Homo sapiens: one gene and its partners. The protein of the gene in region 1 purifies or fractionates together with the protein of each later gene. This does not show direct contact. Each region holds a gene or a part of one and is shown in the gene's direction. Other genes may lie near its edges.

Region 1 (3,500 bases):
CAGTACTTAACAGAAGCTTTATTTCATGCACACAATTATTAAAAGTATTGTATAAAATTACTTTCAGACTGTGTGTGTAAGATGTGTAGGAAACAAGTGAATTTTCTGTTTAGACTTGGATGTCATCCCCACGATATCTCATTATGTATATGCAAATATTCAAAGATTTGAAAAAATCCCAAATCCGCACTTCTGGTTCCAAGCATTTTGGAAAAGGGATACTCAATCTCTGCTTCTTTTTCCCTGGCCTCTTCATATTTGATTTTCTCAGGGCTTAACTTCACTTCTCCATGTACACCTAGAGATCTCATCCAAGTTCATACCTGTTTTGGTATAATCTATACACTGACAACTCCCAAATTATACTAACAGCTCATAATTCTTCAGTCAACACCAGACTCCTATTTAATATTTCCATTTGAATGTCTAATAGATATCTCAAACTTAACTCATCCAAAACTGAACTGAATATATTTTCTTCAAATCTGGCTCTTCCACAATTTTTCCTACATTAATTGAAATTTACTCCATTTTTCCCATTGCCCAGCCTGTAAAACCTGGAGTCAACCTCGACCTTCTTTCATATCCTATATTAGTAAATTTTGTTGATTGTATTTTTACAATATGTCCAGAATCTGGTCATTTCTTACCATCTTTATTTTAACCCTGGTCCAAACCACTATGATCTCTTACCAGTATTATTTTGATAGCTTTTTAACAGTGCTCCCTGCTTTAGACCTCATTCCTCTTCATGCTATTCAATACAGTAGCCAGAGCATTCTTCTTAAAACAGAAGTCAAATATCTCTTCTGTGGTCAGAACTTTGATGGTTTTCCATCTCAGAATAAAACGCACATTTCAGCCAGGCACTGTGGCTCATGCCTGTAATCCCAGCACTTTGGGTGGCCAAGGCAGGTGGATCACGTGGTCAGGAGTTTGAGACCAGCCTGACCAATATGGTGAAACCCTGTCTCTACTAAAAATACAAAAATTAGCCGGGCATGGTGGCACACGCCTACAGTCCCAGCTACTGGGAGGCTGAGGCAGGAGAATCACTTGAACCCGTGAGGTGGAAGTTGCAGTGAGCCGAGATCAAGCCCCTGCACTCCAGCCTGGGCGACAGAGCAAGACTCGCCCTCAAAAAAAAAAAAGTTAAAACACTGTTAATTAGCACCTATGTTTTTGCCAGTATGTTAAGATTATTATTATTTTTATATTCCTTTTCTCTTTAGCTGTTGCTAACAGCCTCTTTTGATTCAGATACTTTAAAGGATCATAACTTGTTACTGAATTTATAAATTATATGGGTGAATGTGGGTTTGTACTCTTACGTATGTTAATATATATCTGTCTGTGATTAGACAGGTAACATATAAATTAAACTCATTTGCAGAGCTATTGCATTAATGATGAGCAATTAGCAGTAGCTCAAGTGTTTAAATAAATAAGGTGTTTAAATAAAAACTTAACCAAACTTTCAAAAAAACCACAGGTTGCAACTTCTCAAATAGTACTTTTCAAATAGTAAATAAATGCATTAATTTCAAAACAGAAGTTCTTTTTGTATTTGTTCCATGATAAATTGTAGTTTTTCCTGATTGAAAATAGGTTCTTATTTGGGATTAAATTATCTGATCAACTGACTATTGCAAAGAATAAATACATCATTATTTACACACATTAATTATTGTTATAAGCCATTACACATTTTTAAAAAATGAAGTTTGTATTCTTACAGTTACCTTTTAGCAATTCCAGGGCTAAAGGAACTTTACTGCTTGACAGAGAAGCAATGATAGCACAGTGTAGTAGACTCCCAAATAGTTTGGTTACATACCTGAGTCAGTACTTCTGATATTTTTGTTTGTTTACTTACAAATTATGTATGTGTTGTTGTCATTGACAGTCTTAAGGATGATATATACTTAGGCAAGGTTTATCAAGAGCAGATGTAAATCTGTATTTCACATAGCCATTTTGGTATTTCTGAGAGTTTTTGATTGGCTTGTCAAATTGTGTTGTATTTTTCTTGTTTTTATTTATTTTTGGGACGGGATCTCACTTTGTCACCCAGGCCTGGAGTGCAGTGGCATGATCTCGGCTCACTGCAGCCTCCACCTCCTGGGCTCAAGCAATCCTCCCACCACAGCCTCCTGAGGGACTAGAGGTGTGCACCACCACGCCTGGCTAATTTTTGTATTTCTTGCAGAGACAGACTTTCACCATGTTGGCCAGGTTGTTCTCGAATTCCTGAGCTCAAACTGATTTGCTCGCCTTGGCCTGCCAAAGTGCTGTAATCTAAGGCGGATCACAGGCATTTGCCACCATGCTGGCTACATCACATTGTATTTTTCTAAGTTTTATTATAAGACTTCACTAGGAGGAGCAGAAGTATCAGTTTTGCTATTTTTGTGCTTTTATTAATATATTGTTCAATTCATTGTTTCTTTGTAGGAATCTTCTGCGGCTTGTCCATAGTGTGAATAAAAACTAAATCACATCTATAATTCTACTGAACTGGTCACACAGACGCTGCCATATATGTCACAGTACACTGAAAAGGAGCCAGCAGGTAAGGAAAGTCAGTTCTTCTACATTGAGTACTTCTTGTTTTTTCCTCTGGGTACCTTGAGTACCAGTAAGTGACATATGATCATCTGACCTGTGGTCTTACTAAAAGGCTGGTTTTGATCCATATATTGAATATTTGTAAAGCTTAGTTTCTAATTTTTGATAGGTAAAAATAGAAATTCTGGTATTTTCTTTCCATACCCATTTAGCTTGGAAAGCTTTATGCTTTCCACTTCGGAGACTATTCTTTTGGTAGAATTGTTAAGGGCATTGGTTCTGGAGTCATACTTTTGGATTATTAGACAAGTTATCCAACACTTAATTTTAACTTTAATTTTTCAATTTTTAAAATAGAATACAATATCCACCTCAAGATTACTGATGGGATTAAATAAGTGTAACACTTGATATTATTTATACTCGATATGTGCGTGTATTATAAATACATGTTTGTTTCTGTTTCCTTCTTGGAAGTGATTATATTTCTTATTTTAATACAACTAAGAAATTATGTAACTGTTTCATTCATTCATTTATTCATTTTTTTTTTTTTTTTGAGATGGAGTTTCGAACTGTCACCCAAGCTGGAGTGCAGTGGCACAGTCTTGGCTCACTGCAACCTCCGCCTCCTGGGTTCAAGTGATTCTCATGCCTCAGCTTCCTGAGTAGCTGGAATTATGGGCATGTGCCACCACGTCTGGCTAATTTTTGTATTTTTAGTAGAGACGGGGTTTCGCCATGTTGGCTAGGCTGATCTCGAACTCCTGGCCTCAAGTGATCCGACTGCCTCATCCTCCCAAAGTACCGGGATTACAGGCATGAGCCACCATGCCCAGCAACTGTTGCATTTATTGACTATACCATATGCTGTGAGAAAATATTTTGTTTAGTTGCTGTGTAGTACATGTAATGTATAATTGACTAAGCAG
Region 2 (3,500 bases), on another chromosome or scaffold:
AGGTATGTAGCTTTTATAAAGTCAAATCTAAGATGATTTAGTCACTGAAGTATCATTTTAATTATTGTTCTGATGTCAAGAATATTTTTAGCTGTAGCATTTTTATCCGTTCAGAGGTGTTATGGTCGTGTGCAGCAGAAGCAAAAGTGGAATAGAAATCTCACATTCCTCTAGAAAAGAGAGAGCAAACTTTATAGGAAACTACCTTTAGGTTATCTGCCACTTTGCATAAAGCAAATTCTAAAAAGACATAGTGCTCATTTATGCAGCAAGTGGTTTTTGAGTACCAGGGTTTGGGATTACAGTGAGGAGCAAAGGAGGCAGATGTCCCCTGCCCAGGCAGCTTCATGTCAGAGAGGAAGAGACTCTACAGCCTGCATGCAAGAGAATTGAGCTTTCAGGCTCTTTCACAATTTCCCCTGGCCTTGGGTGCTTACAACCTAGCTGTAAAATAGTCAATTGTTACAGATACGGGAGTACTGGAAAATAAGATCATGTTCTCTGAGCTGGAAGGTTTGCTGGAGCATGGATAATCCCATAAAGCAATGTCTATTCTGTTCCCCAGCTCAGGCGTAATTAAAACACTCCTGTGTTACATTCTTGATGCTAATGTTAGGCCAGGGCATGGTTCTGCTTCATGAGAAAGAAATTGACCAAAATGGAGCCTGTTTCATAAATCAATTATACATGTTTTATATAATGAAGAGCAAAGTACTTTAACTAGAATTTTATTTTTTCTTTAGGGTGATCAGTTATGAAGAAGGGAAAGCTTTGGCAGAATCTTGGAATGCAGCTTTTTTGGAATCTTCTGCTAAAGAAAATCAGGTAACAGATTCTATAAACCTCATTTTGCATTGCGTTCTCATCAGTCGCAGGGATGTGTTCCTTGCAGTTGGCATTTGACCTCTGTCTTGATCACTCCTGTGTAACATCTGGCCTTCCTCCATTTCTAATACCAAGTTTTGTGTTGCTTTAGGAAGATACTACTTAGGTGTTTATAAATTCAGTCAGTATTCTACTTACAGTGGAACCTAGGATATTTGTAGGATAAACAGAAACTATTAGTAAAGGAAATACTACCTTTTGTAAACATATATTTTTGGTTTGTATTAATAGCTGGTACAGAAATAAGTCCATACAGGGGAAAAAAAAAGAATTATATCACTTTAGTACTAATTTTGTAACTACCCACCCCCTGGCTTTTTTTCTGTTAGATGAAACCGGGTCAGACGTACGTGTTAATTGTTAACATAGAAATGATGAAGAACCATCTTATAAGCATTTAGTACCAATTTCACCCCGCAGATGTGCCTTCAAAGGCATGTTCTGGGAAGGATGTAGATTCTGCCTCCGGAGGCTTCACAGTCCTGTATGAGCCCTTCTCTTCCATTGCTCTAATTTAGACCCCCGGCACCAAGCTTGTCTCCCGCCCCCAGTGCATTTTTCACCTATACATTTTTTTTGCTGCCCTTAATTTTCTAAAGATACACATCTGATGGTATCATCCTCTACTCAGAAACTGTCAGTGAACTGCCCCTTCTCTATAGAACCCTTCGCCTGGTCCTGAATGCAGTCAATAATTTGTTCTTTTCTAGTTTCTTCTCTCACCACGTTCTTGTACTTTCCATCACATCAAACTGCTCCCTTCCTTAAACACACCATCTCCTGTCCACCCCACTTTCAAAATGTCTCACCTTTCCTCATGCTCCCCTCCGGTTTAAAATAGCCCTTCTCTAAGTATCTACTTAGGTTCATGTGGGGTTTTATATTTTGAATGTGTTTTCAACATGTGGTGGTGTTTGATCCTCAGGTAAGATGACTTGGTTTTCATTTCTCTGAGGAAACTCTAGTATAGTAGGGTGGTGCCTCCTCCCTGGGAGGGCCGGGCGCCAGCAGCCTTGGCACTCTTCCTTCCCTGCCCCGCCCCTCTCCGCAGCACGGAGGTTTGTAGTCCTCAAGGCCCCACCTAGATTTCACCTTCTTGTTGACCCCCTCTGGATCCATCCAGCTGAAAGAAATTGTGGTTTCTTCTCTTAGCCCTCTTAATTTGTTCTGAGATCTGAGTCAGTATCATTTATATAAATATCCTTCATAATGTTTAGCACAGTGGGTTATCCGTCAGCCCAAGTATCCTGTGATAGTCAAATTGGCTTTGTCCTGTGTTGGGATATGGAGGGATAGTGAATCCATGTGGTTATGTCCTCTTATGTGCGGATGAAAAAAACTGATTAAACAGATGTGTGTAATTCGTTCCCAAGTTCCAGATAGCAAGGGATTTATCGAAGTCAGCTCAGTTTCTGAGTATACACAGAATTCAAATAAGAATTGAGATAGTTAAGAGATACCTATATTTTAAAAATTGAATTAAATCCATTGAGTGCCTATGGACTGTATCCTTCAGATCATGTAGTTAAACCGCCTCATTTTAGAAGTGAGGAAATTAAGTTTCAGAGAAGTTAAATGACTTTTCTAAGATCACCCACTACCTTACGTGGTATAAGAACTAGGACTGAATTGTAGATCTCATCCACATCTAGTCCTTTTTTCTCTACACACTGCTTCCTGTCAATCAGGTGATCTGAAGCCGGTGACCTAGATTAGACAAGCGGGGTGGGACCTGGGGTTGGCTTCAGTTAACTAGGAGGACAGACGCCTCATTCATACCAACAGGACAGAAGGCTGAGGATGGGAGCCCACATTCAAGTGGGTGGGTCAGCTTGGTGGATGGAGGATGTGGAGTTCTTTCATGAATGTGGCTTCTGTTTTCCAGTGAAGTGTGTAAAACAAGGTTTTCAGCTGAGCGTAAGCACGGGGAACATTTGAGGAGAAGGGACAAGGCGTGGATGCTTTCTCTGGGGAGTGCCCAGATCCAGGGATGCAGGCGGGTGGCTAGGCAGCACCAAGTGTCTGCGCCAGGTTCCTGGTCATGGGTGTGAGGTCAGCAGTGAGCGGTGTGTGTTTTCCCTGGGCAGCGTTTACGGTGTGGCCGCGGGCACCGTGCCAGCGACAGTTGGTAGGGAAGGGAGTTGAAGTACAGTGGCGCCATGGTGGCCTGCTGAGTCTGAGCTGACCGAGAGGGAAAGGAGCAGCAAGAAGTGGTTAAGGGACAGGGGAGATGTAATAATAGGGTCAACAAATCAGGCCCCTTGTGGGGCTGAGAATTGTTGCTTCAGGATAGCTAGAGAAAGAGCTGGGAAGGTGGTGTGGTGGGACGCTGGCAGTTGGTGTGTTCTGGTTTCGTGGGATAGTGGAAGTCACTGGAGTGATGGGGGAGGGGGATTCTTGGTGATTAGGAGAACAGGGTACTTCCTGTGGGGCTTCTGAGAACAGGGGCAGTTTTTCATGACCACAGGACTGCATTTCAAGGACAGGGTCTGGGAGTCACGGTGGCTCAGGCCTGTTGTCCTGGTGCATAAGGAGGCGAGGCTAGGCTTTCGAGGCCAGCCTGGGCAACATAGAAACCTCCAATCTGTATAACAAAAAAGGAAAAATAAAGGACA
Region 3 (3,500 bases), on another chromosome or scaffold:
TAGCAAACAGACAGATGCTGCTAACAGTCTTAGCAGTACCTGGTGAAAAAAAATTGTGGTTAAAAAAATATAATTTTTAAAAATATAATTTTTAAAAGATGCAAAATGCATCTACATAAACACATGACAGTATCGTAAATCCTCCAATACGGAAGGTAAGTTGTGTAAGTAAATAGTAAAGACTCTATAATTTTTAAAAGATGCAAAATGCAACTACATAAACACATGATGGTATCGTAAATCCTCCAATACGGAAGGTAAGTTGTGTAAGTAAATAGTAAAGACTCAGGCTGAGCGTGGTGGCTCATATCTGTAATCCCAGCACTTTGGGAGGTCAAGGAGGGTGGATCACGAGGTGGTGAGTTCGAGGCTAGCATGGCCAACATGGAGAAACCCCATCTCTACTAAAAATATAAAAAAAATTAGCCGGGCATGGTGGTGGGCACCTATAATCCCAGCTACTGGGGAGGCTGAGGCAGGAGAATCACTTGAACCCGGGAGGCAGAGGTTGCAGTGAGCCGAGACTGTGCCGTTGCACTCCAGCCCAGGCGACAATGTGAGACTCCATCTCAAAAATTAATAAAGACTCAATATTAAAGTAGACTGTGAGGAAAAGGTAGATCAGAAATTAAATTGAATAATATGTTTGATTTATTTTCATGTTTCTCTCTTTTATTCTTATGATAGTCTCTCTACTATTTTTCAGCTAATGATGCTGGCTACTTTAATGATGAAATGGCACCAATTGAAGTGAAGACAAAGAAAGGAAAACAGACAATGCAGGTAGACGAGCATGCTCGGCCCCAAACCACCCTGGAACAGTTACAGAAACTTCCTCCAGTATTCAAGAAAGATGGAACTGTTACTGCAGGGAATGCATCGGTTGGTATCACCACACAGATTAGCTTGAATTCTTCCTGGTGTGTTCAACAAAAGTAATCATGAAGTATCTTGTAAATACTTTTTATGCCAGTCTTTAGTTGTTTAGCTTAAACTAATAGTGTTCATATTCAATTAATTTAGGTTTTCATAGACCCACACAAAATCTTTTCATATTTATTTATATAATACTCTTCTGATTTCTTAATTTTTTCAGAACTAAGAAATTTCAGAAACAAATCTATCTGGCTTATTTTGGTTTTCAAACTTTTTTTTTTCTCATGCATACAGTTTATCGTATTTCTTCTTACATCTACTCACATCTAGATAAAAGTTTTTCCTTGACACCCTTTTCCTTGTTCTTTAGTAAAGTTGTATTCTGTGCCTTAAAAAATCTCCTTCATCCACCACAGTACCACTTTTCTAATTGTATCTCACACTGTGCACTGGCTTCCTATGTACTGCCATATTCCTAATACTACTAGTCCATTAGTTCAAACTTTGATTAACTGGATTATTTTAGCCTTTAGTTAATCTAGTATTTTTATTTTCAAGGGTGTAGCTGATGGTGCTGGAGCTGTTATCATAGCTAGTGAAGATGCTGTTAAGAAACATAACTTCACACCACTGGCAAGAATTGTGGGCTACTTTGTATCTGGATGTGATCCCTCTATCATGGGTATTGGTAAGTTTATAGTAAAACAAACTGGTTCTATAATATTTCTGGAGGTAAGTCTTCTTTGGCATTCAGAGTCCTGAAAAAGTGGCCAAACCAAGGTCACCTGTAGAGAAAAGAAGATTGGTAATCAGTTTAAATAAAAAATCTTTATGAAGAACTGTCCTAGACACAATAGAAAAACCAAGACCGTGTAAACTCCATGGAGGAAGTAATCATATCTTAGTGTCCATTTGAGATTTAAAAAATCAACACACAGTAATTATATCTTATTGTTCCTTTGAGAGTTTAGAAATCAACACAGAAAATAACAGAAGAATTACGTGATCCTGACAAGATAAAAGAAATTATGAGATGGGAGAAATCCTGGGGTGAAACAGAGAAGGCTGTATGGAGAAGGTGGTATCGCAGCTCCTTGCTGGTTGTTTTACACACATTCAGTCTTCCCACGTCTCCAGTAAGGGAGACTTCTTTGTGAATGAGAAAATTGAGGCTTAGGGAGGTTGTCTTACAAGGTTCCAAATCAGTAAGTGACAGCCAGGGTGTGAATCCAAGTCTCTCTGAAATCAAGTGCTCTCTTCACTGTGAGTTAAACGCATAGTCTCAGGAAGTCAAATTAATATTCCTCTTGCTCAGGTGAGTATTAGCAAAATAAAGACTTATAATTAGATTGGTAAAATGCTAGATGGAAAAAATTTGGAAGTCCATAAACATGTATAGTCTTGGCTTAAAATATTTGATTTAGAAGTAGAACAAAGAGCTTTTTGCTGGATGCACTCCTAGGAACCACACACGATGCTGAATTTTAATAGTTCCTGTCATTCTCTGGGGGAACAGGGAACCAATTAGGTGCCTTACTTAGAAAAATAAAATTTGGTGCTCAGTAACTTTGATATATCCCACCTACATATAACCTCCCACTGTAAGGAAAAGCCTGCCCTAGGGTATAGATTTCAGATTGTTTAGCCCTTTTTTGAATAACTAAATTGTTTTCTGAGGTGGGTTCCAAGAGAGGAGGAGGAGGATAACCTGTTACTGACCTGCCATCTCAGAGATCCTTCAGTGTAAGCCTACAGGTTCTACTCAAACAATACCACTTACACTGACTTGGGATTAATACTCAACCATATTTGCTGCCATGTCCCTCAGAGAAGACATATCTCTGTATAGAGTTCCTAAGAAAAAAAGCTGGCATGTTCATATTTTGTCATCTTTCACTATGTGTCTCAAATTTATGTCAGCAAGAACTGCAAGATATTTTGACACATATGAAAAGTCAATCTTAAGCTTATTAGCTTTTGGCTATCCACTATTGGCAAAAGATAACTTTTGTCTTAGAAATGGAAGGTGGTGGAAAAATTAAACATCCGTATGTTGTTATGGCATTTATTATTTTGATATCTAGGGTAGTGGTTCCCAACCTCAGATGATTGTCAGAATCCACTCATAACCCCCACACCCTTAGATTTTGTTTCAGTAAGTCCAGAGTGGAGCCCAAGAGCAGAGTTGGTTTTGTTTTTTGTTTTTGACACAGAGTCTCGCTTTGTCACCCAGGCTGGAGTGCAGTGGCGTGATCTCAGCTCACTGCAACCTCATTCTTCCCAGTAGCTGGGATTACAGGTGCCCGCCCCCACGCCTGGCTAATTTTTGTATTTTTAGCAGAGACAGGGTTTTTCCACGTTGGCCAGGCTGATCTCAAACTACTGACCTCAGGTGATCCGCCCACCTCAGCCTCCCAAAGTGCTAGGATTACAGGCGTGAGCCACCATGCCCAGCCCAAGAGCAGAGTTGGTTTTTTTCCTGCATACACCTAGATGCTTTTGATGATCAAACAAATGTATGTGACATGGGTTGGCTATTTTATACTCCTTTTTCAGTTTAACTTTATTTAATAGGTTCTGGTAGATTAGCATAGCCAGTGAACCAAGAAAGCGTTGTTTTCCTT
Region 4 (3,500 bases), on another chromosome or scaffold:
GAAACCCCATCTCTACTAAAACTACAAAAAATTAGCCAGGTGTTGCAGCAGGTGCCTGTAGTCCCAGCTACTCTGGAGGCCAAGGGAGGAGACTTGCTTGAACCTAAGAGGCGGAGGTTGCAGTAAGCTGAGATATTGCACCATTGCACTCCAGCCTGGGCAACAAGAATGAAACTCCATCTCTAAATAAATAAATAAATAGTGTAAATAAATACTGTATAAAATGCAAAGCACTCAGAATAGCCAAAACAATTTTGAAGTCAGAAAATAGCACTTACATGCTCTGATTTTAACATTACCTATAAAGCTGTTGTAAACAAGACAATGTGGTTTTGGCATAAGGACAGAGAAAGAGAACAGAGTTCAGAAATAGACCCAGACTTATGCTTGTTTTCAACAAAGGCATCAATGGAATGAAATGGAGAAATTAAAGTCTTTTCAACAAATGGTGCTGGAATAACAGATTACTCACATGGGAAAGATGAACCTAGATCCCTACCTCACACCCTATATAAAAGCTAATTTGAGATAAATCGTGGATTTAAAAATAAAAGCAAAAAATGTAAAGCTTCTAGAAGTATATATAAGAGAATAGCTTTTACAGGGTGCAGTGGCAGGTGCCTATAGTCCCAGCTACTAGGGAGGCTGTGGTGGGAGGATCACTTGAGGCCAGCAGTTTGAGGTTGTATAGTATACTATGGTTGATTTTGCCTGTTAGTAGCTGCTGCACTCCAGCCTGGTCAACATAGTGAGACATCATCCAACAAAAAAAAAAAAAAAGAAAGAAAAACAGCTTGATAAGTAAAGACAAGACATAGAAAGCAAAGCAATAACTTTTTTGTGTGTGTGTGTGGAGACGGGTCTCACTCTGGCACCCAGATTGGAGTGCAGTGGCTCAATCTTGGCTCACTGCAACCCCCACCTCAGCCTCCTGAGTAGCTGGGACCACAGGTACTCACCACCATGCCTGGCTAATTTTTTGTATTTTTTGTAGAAATGGGGTTTCACCATGTTGCCCAGGCTGGCCTCAAACTCCTGAGCTCAAGGGATCCTCCCACCTCAGCCTCCCAAAGTGCTGGGATTACAGGTGTGACCCACCAAACCTGGCCAATTCTCACATTTGTAGAAGAGAGTTACAAATACGGAAAGGGAGAAGAATGTAGCTTGTGGTGTTAGGTTGCATTTTGGAGAACTCAAAATGCAGTATGAACTCAAGGTGTTACCATGAGTGTGTGTGTATATGTAAAATTATAAATAATACATATGGAAGTTTCTACTGAACAGACCTAGAAACAATGACAAACCAGTAACAACAAGCAGTCCTGACACCCAGATCTTCTAAATACATTTATCCACTAAAAGGAACTAAGGTTGTTTGGAGAAATGGCCCTTTCCAAGGCTAGGGAAAAAATGCTAAAAAATTAAGGACATGCTCAGGGACATGTTGAAAGCACACAGGAGGCAGCCTACGGGGCTTCCACTTTCCTGTAGTGGAATTTTGAACAATTTGAGCATCAGAGTCAGTAATGATAGTAATGGGTTGTAACTGCCCAAATTTTGAACAATTTCAGCGTGCAAATAAGTTATGATAGTAATGGGTTGTAACTGCCTAAATTTTGAACAATTTCAGCGTGCAAATAAGTAATGATAGTAATGGGTTATAACTGCCCAAGTATTGAAAAATTTCAGCATCAAAGTAAGTAATGAGAGTAATGAGTTATAACTTATTCAATAAAATGAAAATGTATGAGTCCATCCTGATATAAATAACTGAATAAATGGGAGAAAAGGAAAAGGTTTTCTTTGTGGTAAAATGCCAATTAATATCTTACCAATAGAAGGAATGTTGGAGTTAGAAAGTCATGAATGAATGCTAAAACTAGTGGGTGAAAATATGATGGGGAAGAAGATATTTGGATAATCCAAAAAGAACCTCTGATAAATTATTGATTACTTATAAATGAAAAAATGGTACCTTTAAAAGCTAGAAACCTGGTGAATACCAAACCATTTTAACCAAGTGATCAAAGATAACATCACCTGGGATAAACTGATTGTCATTTGTGTCCTAATAAGACTCACTGAGAAAAATCATACTATCATTCAGTGGTATACCTGCCTTTTGGCAGAATCTTAATCTAATTCTGAGGAAACATCAGACAAATCAAAATTGATGACCCTTAACAAAAGAACTCGCCCATGTTCTTCAAAAATATCAAGCTTAAGAAGCATAGTCTGAAGAACTGTTACAGACAAAAGCAAACTAGAGAGATTGATAGTTGTACAATGCATGCTTCTTTATTGGCTCAAATAAAGGAGCTAGAAGGACATTACTGAAATATAGGTGAAATTTGAATGTGGACCAAGGATTAGATAATAGTGTTTGATTCATGTTAAATTTCCTGATTTTTGTTTTGTTTTGTGAGACAGGGTCACCCAGGCTGGAGTGCAGAGGCACAATCATGGCTCACTGCAGCCTTGAACTCCTAGGCTCAAGTGATCCTTCTGCCTCAGCCTCCCAAGCAGCTAGGACTACTAGCTACATGGCACACACACCATGCCCGGCTAAATTTATTTTTAATGGAGACAGGGTCTCGCTGTGCCCAGGCTGGTCTCAAACTCCTGGGCTCAAGTGATCCTCCCACCTCGGCCTCCCAAAATGCTGGGATTACAGGTGTGAGCCGCCACACTTGGCCCAATTTCTTGAGTTTTATAACTGTGCTTATGTAAGAAAGTGGCCTTGTTTTGGGGAAGTATACACTGAAATTAAAATTTAAGAGTAAGAAGGCATTGTATCTCCAACTTTCTCTCAGATGGTTCAGAAAGAAAATATTAAAGCAAATGGAGGGAAAATATAAATGGTGACTCTGGGTGAAGGAAATTTCTGTAAGTTTACAATTATATAGAAAGGGAAGGAGAGAAGTATGACTCCTGAGAGTCACTGCAACATTTCCAAACCAACTGCCAGTGGCAGGCAGGGCCACCCCACACAGAGCATTGCACAGGCCACCATGAGCCTGCTAGCATATGTGGTCAGTCAGTGCTTGGTCAAATGTGGACGACTTGAGCTATCAAATGCCAGTTCATGAAAATGTTAGTTTTTTGCTGTTTTTCTCCTTTCCCAGCTGAAAATGTAGCCAAAAAATGGCAAGTGAGTAGAGAAGATCAGGACAAGGTTGCAGTTCTGTCCCAGAACAGGACAGAGAATGCACAGAAAGCTGGCCATTTTGACAAAGAGATTGTACCAGTTTTGGTGTCAACTAGAAAAGGTGAGTATATCATAGTGGTTTAAACATCAACCTATTTATAGGTAAGAGTAACATCTAAAAGAGTAATACATAGGAATCTTTAGAAATTATATCTTAGTTATGTTTTTCAGGTTGCAAATATATGTCCTGGATACATGAATGTGGGGAGGGGGTATGCTGGGTTTACAGGACACGGTAACATGGGACCTATGTCAGCACTCAAGCACTCTTGGTTCCAGAGCGTCCATGACC
Region 5 (3,500 bases), on another chromosome or scaffold:
CCTCATTCCTTCAACCCCTTCCCCTAACCACCACCACCACCACCTTTTAGGAAGCCTCAGCATGAACAGAGAAAGGAGCAGGAGCCAAAAAGACCTCACATTAAGAAGCCTCTGAATGCTTTTATGTTATACATGAAAGAAATGAGAGCGAATGTCGTTGCTGAGTGTACTCTAAAAGAAAGTGCAGCTATCAACCAGATTCTTGGCAGAAGGGTAAGTAGCCGAGTCATGTGTAAATGTTCATGGTAGCCATGGAACTGCTTCATGAAAATCTGCCCCAATTTAATCCCATATCAGGTGGTCATAGAATGTGTTTGCACTTCAAGATATGATATGATGCATTTTAAAGAATTTTGATAACTGTTTTTACTGTTATTCTTTTTTTTTGAGACAGCGTCTCACTCTGTTGCCCAAGCTGGACTGGAGTACAGTGGTATGATCATAGTTCACTGCAGCCTTGACCTCCTGGGTTCAGGCGATCCTCCCACCTCAACCTCCCGAATAGCTGGGACTGTAGTCGTTGTGCCACCATGCCTGGCTAATTTTTTTTTTCCAATTTAAAACTTTTAATTAAAAAGTAAACTTTAATGTTGAAAATGCAAACTTGGGGAGGGCAGGAAGATCACACACAAGGCTGTCACTTCACACTTGGAGGGTTGCACAGAGGCCGGGCAGAGGCGCCCCTCACTTCCCAGATGGGGCAGCAGCCGGGCAGAGGCGCCCCTCACTTCCCAGATGGGGCGGCAGCTGCGCAGAAGCGCCCCTCACTTCCCAGACGGGGCGGCAGCCGGGCAGAGGCGCCCCTCACTTCCCAGACGGGGCGGCAGCCGGGCAGAGGCGCCCCTCACTTCCCAGACGGGGCGGCAGCCGGGCAGAGGCGCCCCTCACTTCCCAGACGGGGCGGCAGCCGGGCAGAGGCGCCCCTCACTTCCCAGACGGGGCGGCAGCCGGGCAGAGGCGCCCCTCACTTCCCAGACTGGGCGGCAGCCGGGCAGAGGTGCCCCTCACTTCCCAGACGGGGCGGCAGCCGGGCAGAGGTGCCCCTCACCTCCCAGACAGGGCGGCAGCCGGGCAGAGGCGCTTCTCTCTTACCAGTCAGTTGGGTGGCCGGGCAGAAGGGTTCCTCACTTCCCAGTCAGTTGGGCGGCCAGGCAGAGGCACTCCTCACTTCCCAGATGGGGCAGCCAGGCAGAGGGGCTCCTCACTTGCTAGACGGGACAGTGGCCAATGCCTGGCTAATTAAAAAAAAAAAATTTTGTAGAGATGTGGTATTGCTATGCTGCCCAGGCTGGTCTCAAACTCCTGGGCTCAAGCAAACCTCCCACCTTGGCCTCCCAAAGTGCTGGGTGAATAAGTGGGAGCCACCGTTTCTGGCCCTGTTATCATTCTTTTTTTTTTTTTTTTTTTGAGATGAGTCTTGCTCTGTCACCCAGGTTGGAGTACAGTGGCATGATCCTGGCTCACTGCAAACTCTGCCTCCCAGCTTCAAGTGATTCTCCTGCCTCCGCTTCCTGAGGAGCTGGAATTATAGTTGCCTACCACCACACCTGGCTAATTTTTGTATTTTTTTTTTCAGTAGAGACAGGGTTTCACTGTGTTGGCCAGGTTGATCTTGAACTCCAGACCTCAAGTCATCCACCCACCTCGACCTCCTAAAGCCCCATTATCATTCTTTAAACAGATATTTATTATCCTTTTGGGTCAGGCATGATGCCTGGAGATTAGGTAATAATTGCTGAATAAAGTAGATGCAGCCACTGGGCACGGTGGCTCATGCCTGTAATCTCAGCACTTTGAGAGGCCGAGGCAGGCAGATCACCTGAGGTCAGGAGTTCAAGACCAGCCTGGCTGACATGGTGACACCCCATCTCTACCAAAAATACAAAAATTAGCTGAGTGTGTGGTGGTGGATGCCTATAATCTCAGCTACTCGGGAGGCTGAGGCAGGAGGCAGGAGAATCACTTGAACCTGGGAGGCGGAGGTTGCAGTGAGCCGAGATTGTGCCACTGCTCTCTAGCCTGGGCAACAGAAAGAGACTCTGTCTCAAAAAATTAAATAAATATCCACCTAGAATTTACAGATCTATAAATCATTGTTAGGGCCTCTATTAGCCAAAATAGGTACAGCCCCTTTCTGGAGCTTCAAGTTTTATGACAGAATACAGACATTAGACAAATAAATAGCCAATAAATATGTAATAAAAATTATGATAAATACTGTGAATGTAGGGAATAAGATTCAGTGAGAAAGAACAGTAGGGGCTTGGGCAGGCCCCTCTGAGGAAACTGTATTTAAGCTGAGATGTGAGAGTAAGTAGAGACGAATGGGGAGAGGTAGACTCCCCCACATGCAGATGGAGTAGCATGTGTGTGCCGCCTCTGAAACAGGAAAGCGTTTAGCTCTTTAGGGAGCTACAGCAAGGCCTTTGGGGGACCGTCCTGGCAAACAGAGGTGGCCACTCCTTCCAGGACAGAAGCAGAGCTGTTCTACCATGAGGCTTTACATGGAAGAATGTATATGATCCTGAGGAGTCTTGATTCTAGAAAGACTGTTCTCCAAATCTCCAAGTGTACACCTGCCAGGTTTCTGGGTTGCCCTTTTCTTTTCATTCATTCTTTCACCAATGCTATGATATTTTTCTGAGCCCCTGTTATGTACCAGGCAGCAGGCTACAACTAGGATAGACACTCTAAGATTGTTTATCCAACTGTCAGCCAAAAGACATACATAGTCAGTCCTTCCAAGTACTTTGTATGGGATTGAAGTGATTTCAGTTAGATGGCTGAAGAGTGGTAAGAAAAGTTTGAGTTTCTCTAATTTAAATTACATTTTCACCATAGTCACGTTATCATTATAATTTTAGAAATGTTTCATCTTAATTTGTTGATGCTCTTCATATCTGTGTGGTAGCCTCTTAATTTGTGACCCTGTGTTTGTTTTTGCAACCTCTCAAGAAATTCATGATTGGCAAATGAACATTCAGTTGAGGAGGATCTAACAACCCTTGTGAAACATAGAGGATCATGTGTTAGCTATTGTCGATGATAATTTTACCAGGTCTGTTCTGAACCTAATAAATTTGAGCATTTATAACAGAAAACATTTAGGAGATTTCCAGTCCATGTGAACAGGAGGGAAGCAGGCCCTCTTACATTATCGATTCCCATTGGATAGCCTCAAAATGCAGCTATTTCCAATCTGCAAGTCACCAGGGTTTCCAGGGGAGGATGTGGTGATAGATTATAGCTTTTTTGGTGTCCTGTGTACAATGCCCTATCTCCCTGTGGATTCTTAGACACTTAATAACAATAATTACAATGCTTTCCCAAGCCAGATCATGGCAGATGAGTGATTCCCATCATCTTGGAAGAACTCCGCCTTAAAAACTGATGATCATTTTCCCTGACTCTTTAAAAGAAGAAATCAGAGGAAAAGAAGGGCTGATGTTTTTATTTCAGCTTGTATGCAACTCTTAGTTTTTTCTTTTTTCTTTTTTGAG
Region 6 (2,405 bases), on another chromosome or scaffold:
AGCTGGGTAGGAAGCTATTGAGCAATGTGAAATAATTAGGAGATGATACCCAGTGTGTATAATTAAGCACCCGGGTACCAGGTGCAGTATGGATCAAAGGTTTGCAGGGACCATTAATCAAGTGAAGCTACAAGTGTTGGGAACCTTTCCTTGAAAGATGGACAAGAATTAAAGAGTATGGAGATGAGGCATCTAAGCTGAGTGAATTCCCTTTCCTCTGCACTCCCAGAGCTTTGAGTTGAGCCAGGGTGCCGCTCTGGCCTGTTGATTGGCAGCTCAGCTAATCATCCCTGGTTTTCCAGGCCTATCGCTGGATGATTGACTCCAGAGATGACTTCACAGAGGAGCGCCTGGCCAAGCTGCAGGACCCATTCTCTCTATACCGCTGCCACACCATCATGAACTGCACAAGGACCTGTCCTAAGGTACGTGGGGCTGGTGACCCTCAGCTCTGCCTCAGAGCTGACACGCCAGAAGTAGCATGTGCTCACAAAGAGGTGATTGGCAGAGAGCAACCCTAGTCATTTGAGAAGGAAAGGGACCAGCATATGCCTGTCCTTTCAGTGTGAGCCTAGGGGCTAGTTTGGCTCTTAGTTGCAAGGAGTAGACTGACTCGGGCCACCTCAGGAGCAGGCTTTATTTGTAGGCTACACAGGGACATTGTGGGAGTTAAGGATGCACAGGAACCCATGAGCAGGTACCTGCGTTCAACCTTCCCAGGAAACAGAAAGCGAAAGCCGTTGGAACGTGGGCAGCTGTGAGGACTTCATTTCTTCTCCATCTTTCTCGCGATGTCAGCTGCTAATCTGCTCTGCTCTCTAGCAGCCTGTTCTTTCCTTCGGCTCTGTGGAGGTTTTCTCTGACTCAAAGCTCTGGCTTTCGTTCCTCTTCCTGCTCGCATTTGCTGCTGCTTTTGGCTCACTCTGGCCTGGATTTTGCCTCCCAGCACACTTCCAGCTTCAGCCACCCGCCTGCCTCCCAGCACTTCTCAGCACAGTTTCCTGAGAGGGTGTCGCATTGGCCCAGCTCACCTTCTCATGCCTGCACATCAGAGGCCACAGCTGGCTACAGACCGGCTGCCCTTTGGCCAGGTTCTGTCTCAGTCTGTTTTGTGGTACTATCACAGAATTTCAGACTGGGTAATTTTATAAAGAAGTTTATTTGACGCACAGCTCTAGAGGCTGGCGCCAGCATCTAACAAGAACCTTCGTGCTGTATTACCCCATGGCAAAAGGCAGAAGGGCAAGAGAAAGGGAGCCCAAGCTCAGCCTTTTTTTTTTTTGGAGACAGAGTTTCGCTCTTGTTGCCCAGGCTGGAGTGCAATGGCACGATCGATCTCAGCTCACCACAACCTCCGCCTCCCAGGTTCAAGTGATTCTCCTGCATTCGCCTCCCGAGTAGCTGGGATTACAGGCAGGCACCACTCATGCCTGGCTAATTTTGTATTTTTAGTAGAGATAGGGTTTCTCTATGTTGGTCAGGCTGGTCTCGAACTCCCGACCTCAGGTGATCCACCCACCTTGGCCTCCCAAAGTGCTGGGATTACAGGCGTGAGCCACCGCGACCGGCCCCTCTCATCTGTTTTTTTTAAAAGACAGGGTCTCACTGTGTTGCCCAGGCTGGGGTGCAGTGGCGCAATCATAGCTCACTGCAGCCTGGAACTGCTGGCCTTAAGTGATCCTCCTACCTCCTGAGTAGCTGGGACTACAGGCACACACCACCACACCTGACTAATCCAAACTCATCCTTTTATCAGGAACTTACTCCTATGATAATGGCAATCCATTTGTGAGGGCAGAGCCTTCATAATCTAATCACTTCTTAAAGGTCCCACCTCTCAATACTGTTGCATTGGGGATTAGGTTTTCAACACATGAGCTTTTGGGGACACATTCAAACCATAGCAGGTGTCAGCCCTGGTCCAGTCAGCCTTGCCCAGTGGGCAGGGAAGGGCTAGGGCTGTGTGGTTCAGAACACGGCTGCCCTCCGAGCAAAGACTGTGGGTGATTTCACTCAAAAGTTGCAGTGAGTCAGTGGGCGGCAAGGTGGAAAACTGTAGGGTGGCCAGTTAGCCGTAAAAAAAGATCACACTGTGTGTTTGAAAACATGAAATCCAAGCTGTAGAATTCACTTATTTTTTGCCTGGAAACCCTCTGTGTTTCCAGTGGCCTCGCTGGGGGAGCCCACAGGCTTCAGCTCCCTATTGCCTGGGCTTCCATCTGGGTCCTGTCCCCAGGACTGTGGTTTACCATGATTGTGCCTGTGAATAGCTACTGACCTCTGAGGCAAGTTATGCTATAAAAGTGCTTGGAACAGTGCCTGGCACATAGTAAGCACCCAATAAATGTCACCTTATGTTATTTTTTAAAAAAACATGAGTACTGGGCTTGTTTGAGACAGAGATA
Region 7 (3,500 bases), on another chromosome or scaffold:
CCCTAGCATGGCACATTGCCCTTATTTATATTCTGCTTTCCTTGTCGTACATAGCCTGGCAACCCATGCCACTGTCGCTGTTAACAGAGGAAGTTGGGGTTTATTTGTTCACTGCGGTTTTCTTTTGTTGTTTGTTTGTTTGTTTGTTTTAGACAGGGTCTCACTCTGCCACCCAGGCTAGAGTGCAGTGGTGTGATCTCGGCTCACTGCAGCTTCAGCCTCCTGGGCTCAGGGGATCCTCCTACTTCAGCCTCCTGAGTAGCTGGGACTATAGGGGAGTGCCACCACACCTGGCTGATTTTTGTATTTTTTGTAGAAATGTGGTTTCACCATGTTTCCCAGGCTGGTCTTGAACTCCTGGGCTCAAGCGATTCCAAAGTGCTGGGATTACAGGCATGAGCCACCATGCTCAGGATGGTCATTGTGTTTTCCGTGGGATAAACGCATTGGCATTAGGGGAAGGCTTAGATCGACAACACACCCGCACAAACACATCAGCTGTCATCTCTTTACCCTCAGCATTTCTCTGGAATGTCTAAGTTAAGCTTTAAGACGTTGGTCAGATCTTAGAGAACTGGCAGAAAGGAATTTCAATGAAACATTGGGTCAGATTGCAAATGAAAAAGCTTGAAATGTGGGGATGGCCACGTTTTAATAGGTTTTTGGTTTTTGTTTTTACATGAAAGGATTCTCATCGCTTTGGAAGGCACCTGAAAGAAGCAATGACTGACATCATCACTTTGTTTGGTCTCAGTTCTAATTCCAAAAAGTAATTCCACTGGAGCTGCTGGGAAGGAAAACGAGCTCTTCTGATGCAAACCAAATGAAAAATAGGCATTAATCCTGACCTTAGCTCGGGATGAAACACTGCTCTTAAAAAAACTCAGTTTTCCTTCCAGAAAATGTGGGTGTTTTTTTTTCCTAGAACAGTATCTCTCCCCTGTGAAGCATAACCCCACTACTTCCAGACTTGCCCTCCCTTGGGGGACATCTGATAAAGTCTCCCCTGATGTCTCCGCATCGGCTTGGATTTATTAAGGGATGCAAATCTTGTTGAGTTAATGAAGGAATTAGTAGGGTTGTGGCTTCACACACAGTGGAATGGAAATGGTGTGCTTTCTCAGTGGCAACCGAAGGCCTAGTGCTTAAGGGCATTTAGCATCATCCAAGCAGGGTAAACTTTTGTTTTGTTAAAAGAAAAATGTGTTATTCAAGTTGGTGTCCCCAGTTGTAGCTAACACATCTGGAATGCACTAACCAAAATGCTGTGCTTTGGAGACCTGCTTTTGTCACCGTGGGTAACCGTTCCCGTCTGGTCCAGTAGCCTGTGTTTGCCTCTCCACATTTGAAGCAAGCAGGATGCAAGGTCTTCAGTTTTACTGACCTTGTATGTCTTCAAGTCTTCACAACCCAGTGCCTTAAAAATGAAAGGCCCTAAATGTAAGGGAGATGGAGAGAAAGATTTATTTTGTAGAGTCTTTGGGTGGAATTGTGGGTATACTGTTCCCTTCACAATTGACTGAGTATGGATAACCGTACATAAGCATTTGCTACACCCCACCAGCCCCCTCCCCCTCAGAAACACCAGTTCCTTCCCAAGGGCAGCTGTGCCAGACTCCCCTCCCGGGACTGCCTTCTTGTCATCATAAGCAACAAAAGAAATAACAGGCACATGTCATAAAAGGGGAGCAAGGGCCGTGATGGTCAGATAATTCACTCAAGAATAAAACATGACACGTGCCTCAGGAGGATCTCTTTCCCAAAGTGACAGCAAGGAGGGCAGGGCATCGGCCACCAAGCGGGGACTAGCAAGTGAGGAAGGGGAGGGCAGCCCACCGTGGTGAGGAGAGAGTGGCTCCACGACCCCAAGGGATGGCCTTCTCCTCCCACCCGGTGAGGGGAAAGACTCACCAGAGGGTGATGGAGACAGTATGCCGGCTCACCTTGGTGACCAGCCAAGATGTCTCAAGTGACAGTGCTAGGTGTTCACCCAGCCTGTCCTTCAGATAGGAGTGCCTTCACGAAAGCGTCTCATGGACCACAAAGCAATTATGCACTGAGTCATCTTCAGTATTTAATGCAAAAATGAAGCATCATGGAATGAAATTCCCACTGTCTGTCATGACAAGCTTAGCTGTCCATTGTTTTAAATTGTGTATTTATTTTTTTGACCACTTGGTTCTAGTTGGGCCTGACTCCTTCAGAGTGCTGCACCCCGATAGTACAACAGCGATGGCTGAACTGTTGGAGTCGATGGAAGGTGCTTGCCGGAGAACACGTGCCTTTTTTTTTTTTTTTTTTTTTGAGATGGAGTTTCACTCTTGTTGCCCAGGCTGGAGTGCAGTGGTGCAATCTCGGCTCACTGCAGCATCTGCCTTGCAGGTTCAAGCGATTCTCCTGTCTCAGCCTCCCAAGTAGCTGGGATTACACGCCCAACACCATGCCCTGCTAATTTTTGTATTTTTAGTAGAGACGGGGTTTCATCATATTGGTCAGGCTGGTCTCGAACTCCTGACCTCAGGTGATCCACCTGCCTCAGCCTCCCAAAGTGCTGGGATTACAGGCATGAGCCACCATGCGCGGCCCACATGCATGTTTTATGTATGTATACTTCATGATGTAAAAATCCCACCTTTATGGGCCAAAGATTTTTTTTCTCCTGAAAGCAAGAAAAAATGAAAACAAAAGACAAAAAAAAAAAAAAAAGCGTCCAGGCGCGGTGGCTCATGCGTGTAATCCCAGCACTTTGGGAGGCCAAGGCGGGCGGATCACGAGGTCAGGAGATGGAGACCATCCTGGCTAACACGGTGAAACCCCGTCTCTACTAAAAATTCAAAAAATGAGCCGGGCGTGGTGGCGGGCGCCTGTAGTCCCAGCTACTCAGGAGGCTGAGGCAGGAGAATGGCGTGAACCCGGGAGGCGGAGCTTGCAGTGAGCCGAGATCGCTCCACTGCACTCCAGCCTGGGCGACAGAGCGAGACTCCGTCTAAAAAAAAAAGCAAAAACAAACCAACAACAAAAGCCCCTGACTGTCCGTCAAGCAGGCAGCGGGGATGTAGCTCTCTCTGCCCTGGGCAAGAATAGCACTTCCCGTTAAAAGCCAGCAGCCGGCGTCAGTCCCTATCAGAGCCAGCTAGATCATGCACTGTTGACCACTGAGCAATCTGTGTTACACTAGAGTTCACAGGGCATTTTGAGTGTAGACGTGAGTGCTTAAACATATTTGGGTTTCTCTCTCAGGTTTTAAATGTTTCAAATGTAATTGTTGCTCATCAGTGCAGTTATCAATGCAATTTTATATTCCTTGAGGGGAGAAAGAGGGGTCTTATTGTACATGTCCAAGGGGGGTGATAAGAGTATTATCTGTTTAATTTAATTGGAACAAACCATTGTCTTAACGCAGCCATGGTTTGAATTTGTTATCTTGGGCTGACCGGTGCATGTAAATACAGTATGCTCTTTGGATGTAAATCTTAGAAATGCAGTGTGAATGTAGGTTA

The links.
Region 2: the proteins of PJA2 (region 1) and RHEB purify together in Homo sapiens (affinity purification with mass spectrometry, with the first as the bait; one large-scale study listed by BioGRID). This does not show direct contact.
Region 3: the proteins of PJA2 (region 1) and ACAA2 purify together in Homo sapiens (affinity purification with mass spectrometry, with the first as the bait; one large-scale study listed by BioGRID). This does not show direct contact.
Region 4: the proteins of PJA2 (region 1) and ACAT2 purify together in Homo sapiens (affinity purification with mass spectrometry, with the first as the bait; one large-scale study listed by BioGRID). This does not show direct contact.
Region 5: the proteins of PJA2 (region 1) and LEF1 purify together in Homo sapiens (affinity purification with western blotting, with the first as the bait; one study listed by BioGRID). This does not show direct contact.
Region 6: the proteins of PJA2 (region 1) and SDHB purify together in Homo sapiens (affinity purification with mass spectrometry, with the first as the bait; one large-scale study listed by BioGRID). This does not show direct contact.
Region 7: the proteins of PJA2 (region 1) and CPT1A purify together in Homo sapiens (affinity purification with mass spectrometry, with the first as the bait; one large-scale study listed by BioGRID). This does not show direct contact.

The regions. Positions count from the first base shown.
Region 1 is NC_000005.10:109,382,475-109,385,974, reverse strand, and holds part of PJA2 (E3 ubiquitin-protein ligase Praja-2), read left to right. Parts: intron 1-2,454; 5' UTR 2,455-2,541; coding exon 2,542-2,572; intron 2,573-3,500.
Region 2 is NC_000007.14:151,467,896-151,471,395, reverse strand, and holds part of RHEB (GTP-binding protein Rheb), read left to right. Parts: coding exon 1-2; intron 3-743; coding exon 744-825; intron 826-3,500. UniProt on the Homo sapiens protein: Small GTPase that acts as an allosteric activator of the canonical mTORC1 complex, an evolutionarily conserved central nutrient sensor that stimulates anabolic reactions and macromolecule biosynthesis to promote cellular biomass generation and growth.
Region 3 is NC_000018.10:49,789,534-49,793,033, reverse strand, and holds part of ACAA2 (3-ketoacyl-CoA thiolase, mitochondrial), read left to right. Parts: intron 1-706; coding exon 707-882; intron 883-1,434; coding exon 1,435-1,564; intron 1,565-3,500. UniProt on the Homo sapiens protein: In the production of energy from fats, this is one of the enzymes that catalyzes the last step of the mitochondrial beta-oxidation pathway, an aerobic process breaking down fatty acids into acetyl-CoA.
Region 4 is NC_000006.12:159,772,045-159,775,544, forward strand, and holds part of ACAT2 (acetyl-CoA acetyltransferase, cytosolic), read left to right. Parts: intron 1-3,125; coding exon 3,126-3,269; intron 3,270-3,500. UniProt on the Homo sapiens protein: Involved in the biosynthetic pathway of cholesterol.
Region 5 is NC_000004.12:108,074,933-108,078,432, reverse strand, and holds part of LEF1 (lymphoid enhancer-binding factor 1), read left to right. Parts: intron 1-50; coding exon 51-213; intron 214-3,500. UniProt on the Homo sapiens protein: Transcription factor that binds DNA in a sequence-specific manner. Participates in the Wnt signaling pathway. Activates transcription of target genes in the presence of CTNNB1 and EP300.
Region 6 is NC_000001.11:17,020,628-17,023,032, reverse strand, and holds part of SDHB (succinate dehydrogenase [ubiquinone] iron-sulfur subunit, mitochondrial isoform 1 precursor), read left to right. Parts: intron 1-302; coding exon 303-425; intron 426-2,405. UniProt on the Homo sapiens protein: Iron-sulfur protein (IP) subunit of the succinate dehydrogenase complex (mitochondrial respiratory chain complex II), responsible for transferring electrons from succinate to ubiquinone (coenzyme Q).
Region 7 is NC_000011.10:68,754,917-68,758,416, reverse strand, and holds part of CPT1A (carnitine O-palmitoyltransferase 1, liver isoform), read left to right. Parts: intron 1-686; coding exon 687-773; 3' UTR 774-3,500. UniProt on the Homo sapiens protein: Catalyzes the transfer of the acyl group of long-chain fatty acid-CoA conjugates onto carnitine, an essential step for the mitochondrial uptake of long-chain fatty acids and their subsequent beta-oxidation in the mitochondrion.